Homo sapiens: one gene and its partners. The protein of the gene in region 2 interacts with the protein of the main gene of each other region in a biochemical or structural test. Each region holds a gene or a part of one and is shown on either strand. Other genes may lie near its edges. The genes, in order: DGKK, STXBP4 and DOCK4.

Evidence for each region.
Region 1: the proteins of STXBP4 (region 2) and DGKK interact in a test that uses a peptide from one of them, tested with the Homo sapiens proteins (one large-scale study listed by IntAct).
Region 3: the proteins of STXBP4 (region 2) and DOCK4 interact in a test that uses a peptide from one of them, tested with the Homo sapiens proteins (one large-scale study listed by IntAct).

Annotation. Positions count from the first base shown.
Region 1 is NC_000023.11:50,376,678-50,380,331, reverse strand, and holds part of DGKK (diacylglycerol kinase kappa), read left to right. Parts: intron 1-254; coding exon 255-351; intron 352-597; coding exon 598-705; intron 706-1,640; coding exon 1,641-1,754; intron 1,755-2,099; coding exon 2,100-2,234; intron 2,235-3,413; coding exon 3,414-3,574; intron 3,575-3,654. UniProt on the Homo sapiens protein: Diacylglycerol kinase that converts diacylglycerol/DAG into phosphatidic acid/phosphatidate/PA and regulates the respective levels of these two bioactive lipids.
Region 2 is NC_000017.11:55,076,621-55,080,274, forward strand, and holds part of STXBP4 (syntaxin-binding protein 4), read left to right. Parts: intron 1-1,457; coding exon 1,458-1,574; intron 1,575-2,065; coding exon 2,066-2,115; intron 2,116-3,654. UniProt on the Homo sapiens protein: Plays a role in the translocation of transport vesicles from the cytoplasm to the plasma membrane. Inhibits the translocation of SLC2A4 from intracellular vesicles to the plasma membrane by STX4A binding and preventing the interaction between STX4A and VAMP2.
Region 3 is NC_000007.14:111,870,820-111,874,473, reverse strand, and holds part of DOCK4 (dedicator of cytokinesis protein 4), read left to right. Parts: intron 1-1,909; coding exon 1,910-2,007; intron 2,008-2,121; coding exon 2,122-2,205; intron 2,206-2,383; coding exon 2,384-2,484; intron 2,485-3,654. UniProt on the Homo sapiens protein: Functions as a guanine nucleotide exchange factor (GEF) that promotes the exchange of GDP to GTP, converting inactive GDP-bound small GTPases into their active GTP-bound form. Involved in regulation of adherens junction between cells.

The DNA of each region.
Region 1 (3,654 bases), on a different chromosome or scaffold from region 2:
ATATTGGTAGCAAGCAGAAATGGAAAATTTATTTATTGATAGGATACTGAGGCTTCAAAGGGGCCCAGGAACCCATTTCTTCAAGTGTTTGCATTGGATATCAGTTACATTAACCGCTGTCCAGTTGCCATTTAGCATGACTCCTCTCTGTAAGAAGGCATTTGAGAAGTAAGATGGTTTTCCTTCCTGTCTTTTTCCACCATTTATCTATATATCATTCACCCTCTGCTTTCTTAATGCTTACCTCCATGTAGTAGCCGCCTTAAGAACAAGATGTGGTATGGCCTTCTGGGAACCAAAGAACTTTTGCAGCGCTCTTACAGGAAACTGGAAGAACGAGTGCATTTGGAGGTTAGTGGAAAAGCGGGTAGTCTTTCCTGGGTATGGAGAAAGGAAATCTCATGGCCTTGGGAATACCGTACATGCTGATTCTTCCTGAGCTTTAACTCTGTGATCCTCACAGCTCATGGGAGGAAGGCATGAAGATAGATTTCCATGTAATGGAAGAGAAGACAGAGCCCTTTCCCCATCTCTGTAAATGTTCCTTCATGTTGCTATCTAAAGATCCAGCTAATGAGAGCTACTCTTTTCTTTCAGTGTGATGGAGAAACCATCTCCTTGCCAAACCTGCAAGGCATTGTAGTGCTCAACATTACCAGCTATGCTGGAGGTATCAACTTCTGGGGAAGCAACACAGCAACCACGGTTAGTATGGAACAAGGAATGGGGAGGAAGAAAGGCATGATCCCACTAAGGTCTCTCTGAAGGAAGCATTGTGCTAACTGAAGTGAAAAATAGACAATGGGAGAAGAGGAGGTGGTCCGAGAACCTTTATTAGCAGCAGCTGTATGATCAGTTTTTCAGGCAATTACCATCCGAAAGCAGAAAATTCAACCAAAGACCTCAGGATAAGGTCAACTCGTAGGTGTTGCCTGGGCTTTGGATTTTCCATTCCTCGGGTCTGACAGATCCTTTAAAGGCTATCTAGACCATGCTTTTTTTTTTTTTTTTTTTTTGAAACGGAGTCTTGCTCTGTCATCCAGGCTGGAGTGGCAAGATCTCAGCTCACTGCAACCTCCGCCTCCCAGGTTCAAGTGATTCTCCTGCCTCAGCCTCCCGAGTAGCTGGGATTACAGGCGCCAGCCACCATGCCCGGCTAATTTTTGTATTTTTAGTAGAGACAGGGTTTCGCCATGTTGACCAGGCTTGTTGACCTTGAACTTTTGGCCTCAGGTGATCCACCCACCTTGGCCTCCCAAAGTGCTGGGATTACAGGTGTGAGCCACTGCGCCCGGCCAAGGCCATGCTCTTTTCTCCAAGGAATTCTGTCAGTAAAATCTCCTGGGATGCTGACCATGACCCCTTTACTCTGAGTTTACCCAAGAAGGTCATAAGGCCAATAAGACTGGCCTCAGGTATTTATGATGCTGGATTGGAAAAGGAGGGAACTGGCTAAGAGTGCAGTACCCTTTTCCCAGATTGGCTTTCTGACCTCATCTTTTTCCCTTTTAATAATGAAGTGTTTCCACTCTTCATGAGCTAGAAAAATTCTCACCAGGAGCCTTTAAACATGCCTTCTTGTTATAGACAGGGTGTGATTTCTCAAGGGTGGGAGATGTGACACAGTTCTTCCTCCTCAGGAATATGAGGCTCCTGCAATCGATGATGGGAAACTGGAGGTGGTGGCAATCTTTGGTTCTGTGCAGATGGCAATGTCCCGTATCATCAACCTGCATCATCATCGCATTGCCCAGGTAGGCAGGGGCTGGGTGGGCACTGGGAAGGGGCTGAGGTTTTTGACTGCTACCCAGGATGTGGGATAGTCCCAGGAATTAACTGGGTAGAAGAATGCCAGGGTGGAGTGAGCAGGTTATCTGGTGGGCAGTAAAGTGCTGACTGAGGTTGGAGGCAGAGGTGGCAGAAGCCAATGGAGCAAAAAGCCCATAGGAAACAGGCATTTCTTCCTGGGATGATCTGATTCACATCCTTTCCAGTCCTGCTTCAGATACACATTCAAGGCCATAACTATGAGATTATCAGATAGAGTTACAGCAGTTGCCCCATTTTTCTCTCCCATTCTTCCTCATTTTCTCTGGCAGTGCCATGAGGTGATGATAACCATTGATGGTGAAGAAGGTATCCCAGTGCAGGTGGATGGGGAGGCCTGGATTCAGAGACCAGGCCTTATCAAAATTAGATACAAGAACGCTGCCCAGATGCTGACAAGAGATCGGGTAAGGGGGAAAATCTTGTCTTGGGCTCCTATACTGCCTCATCCATAGTCACTTGAGTACTGAATATTTCCACTCAAGCAGAATTCCTCAAAAGGAGGTCTGTGTGCCCCTGGCATCAGAGTCACTTGAGATGCTGGTTATAAATGCATTCTTGGGCCCCCACACCAGACCCACTGAACCACATAGGGTTGCATAGTTCCCAGGAACCCAAATTTGCAAACAGGCTCCTCAAGACACTCTGATATATACTGACATTTGCAAACACTGTCCAAGAGAGTGAGACAAGGAGCTTCCTCCCCTGGTTTTCGACAAGGTTATCCTCCTCTTTCCACTGCAAAGAGAGCTAAAAGCGTCAGATGATTATGGAAAAATCTTCTCCTTCAGCAACAGATTCTGCATTGAACATGGTCTTTAGGTGTCTCTAAGGTTCCTTAAAATGCTGCATTAATACATGTCATCCACTTCAGCTAAAGCTTCTAAAGCTTATAAAGGAGCTATTATTGATCACATATTCAATGCTTGGAGGTTATCTTGCACTCTAACCTGTGAAAAGTCCATGGAAACAGCAATAGAGAAAGGAAGAGAAGTCCAGTTTATAAACTGCCTATTCTGTGCTAGGCATTTTACATTTCTCTCATGTAGGTTCTCTCCACAATCTTATGAGGTGGATACACTTATTCCCATTTTACAGATGAGGAAAATGAGGACCAGAGAGGTTAAATAATTTGCTAATGGTCACACAACTAGTAAATGACAGAAACACGATTCAAAATTAAATTAGATATGTTTGGCTCTAAACTGCATCACCACATATTGCCTACATTTGGCAAAGAAGGGAGCATGAAAGGTGCTCCACTGTCTTGTCAGTCATGATGCCTTCATATGGGAGCTTCTAGAAACCAGACATGTGTATGATCCAAGCCTGGTGTCCCAAAATCCAGCATACTCAGAACAACAAAAACTAAAGGGCATAGTCCAGAAGAGATTGAATAAAATGATGGATACTTGTATAGGTATATAGATGGGTATGACAGGGGGAATGGACAGGGGGCCCTCCTTCCCCTCTACCCACTGTACCCACATACCCATTGCCCACAAACGTCAGGCTCACAGACAGATCTGTCATGTGCACTAGTAGCTACAGCAATCATTAGGATATGCCACTGTATTCATCTCCAGGACTTTGAGAACTCAATGAAAATGTGGGAATACAAGCATACTGAAATTCAAGCTGCCCCTCAACCCCAGCTGGACTTCCAGGACTCTCAAGAGAGCCTCTCTGACGAGGAGTATGCCCAGATGCAGCACTTAGCTCGGCTTGCAGAAAACCTCATCAGCAAGTAAGTGGACTGGCCTAGATACAGGGCTGAGAATCCTAAGAAGGCATAGGGAGAAGAAGCCAATTTGTGTCTATTGGCTA
Region 2 (3,654 bases):
CATGTGTGAACTTACTTTAGTGTGTACTATTTGGGATTCATTGAGCTTCCCGATTCGAAGAGCAATGTCTTCTGCCATTTCTGGAAATCACTAAGCTATTATCCTGAGCGATTTCTCTTTCATTCTTTGTATTTGTTCTTGTGTAATTCAGATTGGATGTGTGCTATAGCTTCTTCTGGCTGTTTTCTCTTTACCTTTTCTCCCCATTTGTATTTCAATTTTTGTCTTTCTGTTCCATTATGAGAAGTTTCTTTACCTCTGTTGTCAAGTTCACCCATTCTCTTTATAATTGTATCTAACTGGATGTCAAATCTATAAATAAAGTTTCTAATTTAGTTATGTTACATTTTTATTTTTGAGATGTATTTTTTATGTTATCTGGATCTATTTCAATAGTTTCTTGTGTATTATACTTTCAATTCCCTCTTATTTTTAAAAACATATTAAACATAATTGCCTTATATTTTGTATCTGCTCACTTAAATATCTGCTGTCTTTATAGATCTGATACTGTACTTTATTTCCTTCAGTTAGCTTTCATTCATAGAGCTTATTTTCTCATATGTTTAGTGATTTTTGTTTGTGTCTGTGAGATCATGTTCTATCAATGCATTATAAGTGGGAATTCTTTGAGCTCTGAGTTTTAGAAATATCTCTCCAGAGTTTTGAGTTTGCTTCTGCTAGCCTGGGACCAATTTAAAGTAAAATTTCAGCATATGGCTTTTTAGGCCACACAGATAATGTAAATTCTGGCCCCAAACCTGTGTGAATGGGGACTTTTGGTTAGGAATTATTCAGGAGAAACTTTTTTACTCAAGTCACCTGAGCCAACATCAAAACACTGTTTACCTCTGTGAAGTTTACTTCTTCCCAGTTCACCCATTGAGTTTCTTCTGTTTTCCATTTGTGACTGTTGAAACCCCAAACTGTAGGCCACCAGGGATCAGCATATACCCTCCGAACAAATAATGCTTCAGTGCTCTCTTACCCCAGTGGGCTCACTTGGCATCGCTGTTGCATGTCTCCATGGAATTCCTTTACTTCCTTGCTAGCTTTGTCTTACATCGTGTGTGTGTGTGTGTGTGTGTGTGTGTGTGTGTGTGTGTGTGTATCCAGCATTTTTAGTTATGTTAAATTAGTAGAGGTTTCTGTCAGCATCTGGTAAGACACATTGCAAAAACAAAACAAAACAAAACCATAAACTAATTTAAATGTATTTTACTATAAGAATCAATAAACTCATATACAACTTATCTCATAAAACTTGCAGTATCTCTGTGCAAATTAACTTTTAAATATGCAGTTAGTTACATGCCCCCCAAAATCAAAACATATGTACAGTAAGAGAAAAAGATAATTTGGTAATATTGAATATTAGTTCATAAAAACTGAAAATAGGGACCAGTAATGTAAAACTGAAGAAATGTGTAAATGCTCCTTTTGATATCTCTGTGCAGGAAAGTGTTCAGGATTTAAAAAAGAGAATCATGGTACTCGACTGCCAATTACGAAAATCAGAAATGGCTCGAAAAACTTTTGAGGCATCCACTGAAAAGCTTCTTCATTTTGTAGAGGTAAGTTTTTCTGTTCTATTACATTCATCTTTAAAAAATATATAGGCAACTGGCATATAGATAAATGTTACTGTATTTGGTACCTAGTGAAACATTCTCTAGTCTCAAAGCAGCAATGCTGGCTTATGGTCAGATTTAGAACTGCATACATGATGAAAAGACTGGCTAACATTTTATAGATTGTTTAGAGAAATAATTGAGACAAGGTGATGGGATTCCAAGTATATACTATTTTAATGAATACTTTACCAAAAATCCTGATAATGCATAAACATTATTTGATAACTACTTACCTTATAAAGAAATGTTTTCATAGCTGTTATATTTCTGAGTAAAACTGCATGTTAGTTCAATTGTTTGCACCCCCGCTACATAATAGAAGCATCAGTTTAATCCGTGGACAGAGGAGGTTATAAATATTAATGAAGAAAAGATATTTTTTAAAAACTGTCAAACTGATATATCTCCTTCACCATCTTGTTTGTTGCTAGGCTATTCAAGAAGTATTTTCTGATAATTCTACTCCTTTATCAAATTTAAGGTAAGAAAATTTAAGTGCTTTTTGCAGAATATGGGTAGTGATTAAATTCTTCATCTGGTCATTGTGACTCAAATACTAAAAATCTCTTAAATAGTCCTAAGGTGCTACATAACTCCCATTGGATGCCATCATATGGAAATAGATGCAAGGACATATTGTTTTGTGTCCCATCTCTGTTAAAGAAATTCCTGGAGGTATTTAGTCAATCATTGTAACCTTGTAATCTAAAATTATGGTAGAAACCACCTATCCTGTCTTTATCAAAAATTCTATAAAGATGAGATTAACTTAAAATTCTGTAATTGTCTTGCGTATGAATCAAAGTTACTGGTCACAGGTTCACTACTAAAAGTGTCTCAACCCAGCAGGTTAGTTGTTCTGGCAAACAGAATTTTGGAAAACATATTCATGCAATCATTTTCTTTCGTTTTCATCTTTCAGTAGCTATAAATAAAAGAAATATATTTGGAGAATATACCTCGATTGTCTCATTATTCATAATATGTTTTGGATTTAAAGTTTCTTACTAGAAGCTGGAAACATACTAATCAAATTTATTTATTTCAAACCACAAGTTTATGGTCATTTTGATACATGATGAAAGACATTTACAAAAGAAAGATTCTTGTTTATGCATTTCCAAAGTAATTTTTTTCTGCTCTCATAATAGCTGCCACTAGTCCTAGATACATCTTCTACTTCTAGCAATATACGCTTGCAGAAACAGGAAGACTCAATGAGGTTGGGTGTGATGGTGCATACCTGTAATCCCAGTATTTTGGGAGGCTGAGGCAGGGGGATCACTTGAGCCCAGGAGTTTGAGACAAGGAACATAGTGGCACACAGTGGGACCCTATCTCTACAAAAAAAAAAAAAAAAAGAAATAGCCAGATGGGATGGTGCATTCCTATATTCCCAGCTACTTGGGAGGTTGAGGCAGGAGGATTGCTGGAGCCCAGGAGCTCTAGGAGATTGAGGCTGCAATGAGCTGTGATCATACCACTGCCCTCCAGCCTGGATAACATAGTGATGCCCTGTCTCAAAAAGTAAATAAATACTCTACCCTTTACTGTGAAAACAGCAGCTTAATAAGTGAAGATATTTTTGGTGTCCACATAGCATTTTTTAATTTAGAAGAATATTTATAATTCACTTCTAAACTCAAGTAATGTTTTACTTCTTATGATGAAGGAACCTGACATAACTTCTTACTCTCCTTGCTGCTTATGATACAAGAAAACTCTGTGAATTTCATGATTATTACTCTCAGTAAGGATCTTAAAATAATCAGTAATCACATTTATTTCTTTATGGGCTAAGTGTGTCACCCACCCTCAGCTTTCCAAGGTCTTAGTTTTACCTTGACTAATAATTCAAAAGTTTTGTTTTAAAAATTAAGGTTAAAATGACTATTTAAAAGCCAGAGCCTGCCCTTGCCTTAAACTGCTTCATGGAAAAAAAGACAACTTTAAATAGCTACATCACGCAACATTTCATGGTGTCTTAGTAAATTAAACACTAGTAAAAACTGGTGCAGTC
Region 3 (3,654 bases), on a different chromosome or scaffold from region 2:
GTAGAGATTCATCAGCCTTCTTGCAGGGAGGATGGGCAGGCTCATCCTGACTCATTTTCTGGACCCCTGTAATCTGTTTTCCAGCCCTACTTAAATGGGCCCTAGTCCTCATTCTCCACTGCTGCCACTTGGTAGCCAGCATAGCCACCTCCTTCCTCCCCACACTCCTCACATTGAGCAGGGTCCTGATGGCCCCTGCAACTGCCTCACTTTAAAGGAAGGGAAAGAGAACACAAAGGAGGAGTGAGAGCTGGGATGGGGGTGGAGTGGGAAGTGAGGAGTGAATGGCAGGGGAAATGCACGAGGGATTATGAAAGAGAAGATGCCAGGGAGGGGAGGCCTCCTGAAGTGAGATGCAGGAAGTAGGAAGTAGGTAGGAGGGAAGCAGCAAACTGGGGAGAACAATAGAGCTTTGCCTTTGTCGCCCTGAGTCTCACTCTGTGGAAATATCTGATATGCCAAATATAACCAATCAGTTTTAAAAGGTTTCAGTCATACCCCAGGATGTCTGAATTACATCTGAATAGTCAACATTTTCAGGGTTTTTGGTTATGAAAACATCATAAATCTCTTTTTCAAAGTCAGTATTTTTAAAATCACTTTATTTTTCTCATTCTAATTCCTCCTCCTCCTCTTACCCGTGTTTGTTGCAGATAAACATTCCTGTTTGGTACTGAATTCCTTACTATTAATAGTAAATCCTTTGTGAGGTTTTTCTCTTGAATCTGGCTTTGGTGGAGCTTGCTTCTCTTTCTCCTTGAGATTCTTAATGCTTTTTCTCACTGGTGTTCTCTATATTCTCTTTTTCTTTCTCATCTTACCTACTTCCTTGGTTTGGGGGGTTTGGAGTTTTTGTTCCCTCATCATCTTTCTGTTTCTCAGAAAGTCCCTTTTGGGTTTCTGCTAAAACAAGTGATTTGAAGTAAATTTCCTGCTTCCCTGCCTGGAAATTCTGTCCTGGCTCCTCTCTCGGCCAGTCTAGTCTGGCAACTCCACTGAGCCCTGAGGCCAGTTCTACCAGGTCCCGCTGCCCTGCGCGTGCTCGGCACACGCGAGCCTTCAGTTCTCACTGCATTCATTGGCCTCCAGATGCCACCTCTCCCTGCATGCGTTGGAGACTAATAATGCATGGAGACCATCTCCCACAGCCTTTGTAACTTCTGCCCAAGAAAGATAAATTTATTCCCTCCCCAGGTGAAGAGGTTCTCTAAGGACCTGCTGGACCAAAGCCCTCATGTCTGTTTAGGAAAGGGTTAAAGAGCTGGGCCCTGTGCTTATCTGGACTCTGGGATGAAAGATGGCCTGTGGAGTCCAGGAGCTGCTCTTCTCAGGTTGAGAGCTCCCTGGATGATCTAAGAAATCACTGGGCCTGTTACCATTCTTTTAGTCTGCAAGATTTGGGTCACATTGCCAAGAAGACCTTTGTTCCTGGGTGGAGTTGGTTGCTAGGCAGAGTGCTATGTGCTGGGCACCCAAACGGGAATAAAGCAGGTTCCCAGCCCTCAAGAAACTCTCATCTTTCCAGGAGGAGGCAGAAAAATTAATCAACAAATATTTGTCACCTGCCTGATTTGTAAGGATTTGTAAGTGCTACTGTGATGTGGAAGCATGTAGAAGGGACAGTTAGCTCGAGATTTCAGGAAAGGCTTCCAAAATGAAGCAACATCCGATCTGAGGACTAAAGGATGGGTAGGAGTTTGTAAGTCAAGAGCAGTGGAGAGGAAACAGAATACAGTGAAATAAATGCCATCCTAGAGAGGGCTAGTCATAGTTTGTGGGAGCCTGCAACTTGAGTGGCTAGGAGAGGGGAGCCACATGTGTTAAGAATTTTACTTTTACTAGCAGAACGCTTTCATGTGAGGACCTGTTCTCTATTAAGGCAATTAATCTTCCTTTTCTATTTTGAAAGGTGATATGCTTGATCTTTTGAAATGGAGAACCCACCCAGACAAGATCACTGGCTGTCTCTCTAAATTAAAAGAAATTGATGGCTCAGAGATAGTAAAGGTATATAGTATTTCATTACTATTTTCCTTGCAGAGATTCATAGAATAAAGAACATTTGGAGGAAAAAGACAGATAGTATCTTATTTACTCATTTGCTACTTCTTTATCTAACAGTTTCTGCAGGATACACTGGATACCTTATTTGGAATTTTAGATGAAAATTCCCAAAAATATGGGTCTAAAGTGTTTGATTCTTTGGTAAGTTCAAATTCCCTTAATTGTATTTTAACTGTTTTGTCTCTCAATCTTGACTTTCATGAGGCTGGTTCAGAAACATGTGCTTAATAATGTAAGAGTTCATTTTAAAAAGAAGCAAAAAAAAAAGGAAAACCTTGATTTGCATTTAGTTTTATAAAGCTCAATTTTCTTTTTTTAGGTTCACATAATAAATTTGCTGCAAGATAGCAAATTTCATCATTTTAAACCTGTAATGGACACTTACATTGAGAGTCATTTTGCTGGGGCACTTGCATACAGGTAAGGCCCTGTATCTTGTAATTAGTTTAGAAGTGGTTCCTTTCAAGCTTTTCTCAGCAGAAGAGGCGATATAGGAAAATTTAAAAGGGAGTGTAGGAAGAAATGGAGCACTACTGAAGTGTCTCTTGAGATAGTCTCTTCCCTGCTAACACACCCTTTTTAAATGGGTAGAACTTATTTTGATTAAAAAGGGAAAAAAACCTCCTGAATTCTATTCCTGAGCCCTAAAATATAAAGTCTTTCCTTCTTGTCTCTGTTTCACTGGATATTCTTTGGTCTAAAATGTCTGGTTATCTCACTTCGGCTGTTAAGAGTCCCACTTCATCACTGTACTCCCTGATGATTATAAATGTTCATAAGAAAGAAATATGAATGGAAAACAACCTTTTCCTTCACACCTGCTGAAAGTCATCCATTCATTTATGTTAGGATTTACTGAGTGCCAGCTGCTTGCCAGGCACTGTACTTTATGCTGATGATGTGAAGACCTGGTCCCTGGCCTCAGGCAATTTAGTCATTGGGATCTACTCTTTGATAGGAGCTGCTATTTTAACTGCTCCTCCTTTTCTACTGGCTCAGGTGGTGCTGAAAAGTTATGAATAATATTATGCTTTGGCTAGTGCCTGCCTCCTCTCAACATAGTTGATAATTGCCAGAGGCCACAGCTTCTCTCTTTTAGTTCGACAAATAACTGCTTAAATAGCCTTGGAGTGTACCCCATCGTCTGTCTCCCAGTCCAATATGGTCCTTGCTGTTCTCCCATATTTCTACCTTATACCTTAAGCACCTGTGGGCATGCACATGCCTGACTGTTCCCTGAGGTGAGTTTAAAAAGCATGAAATCAGGTTGATATCCTTCCCCCATCTATGTAATATATAAAGGTTAATAGGTTATCAGATAAGCATTTGATCCTGTTTACTTGGATATTCCCAGCCATGACAGGTTAAGATCGACGTCTCCAACATCGAAATGAATGAAGGTATTTTTGTTAGACTTGACACTTCATCAGTGTGATTTTTTGCTGAGAGTGAAATGCAACCGCAGGAATAGTTTTGAAACATCGGCCCACTCAGCCTAACAATTTGGGCCCTAGTGTGAGGAGGTTACTGCTTCCAAGTTAAATTGTCTTTGGAAGCTAGAAAACAAGAGTATAATTTCTCACACTTCCG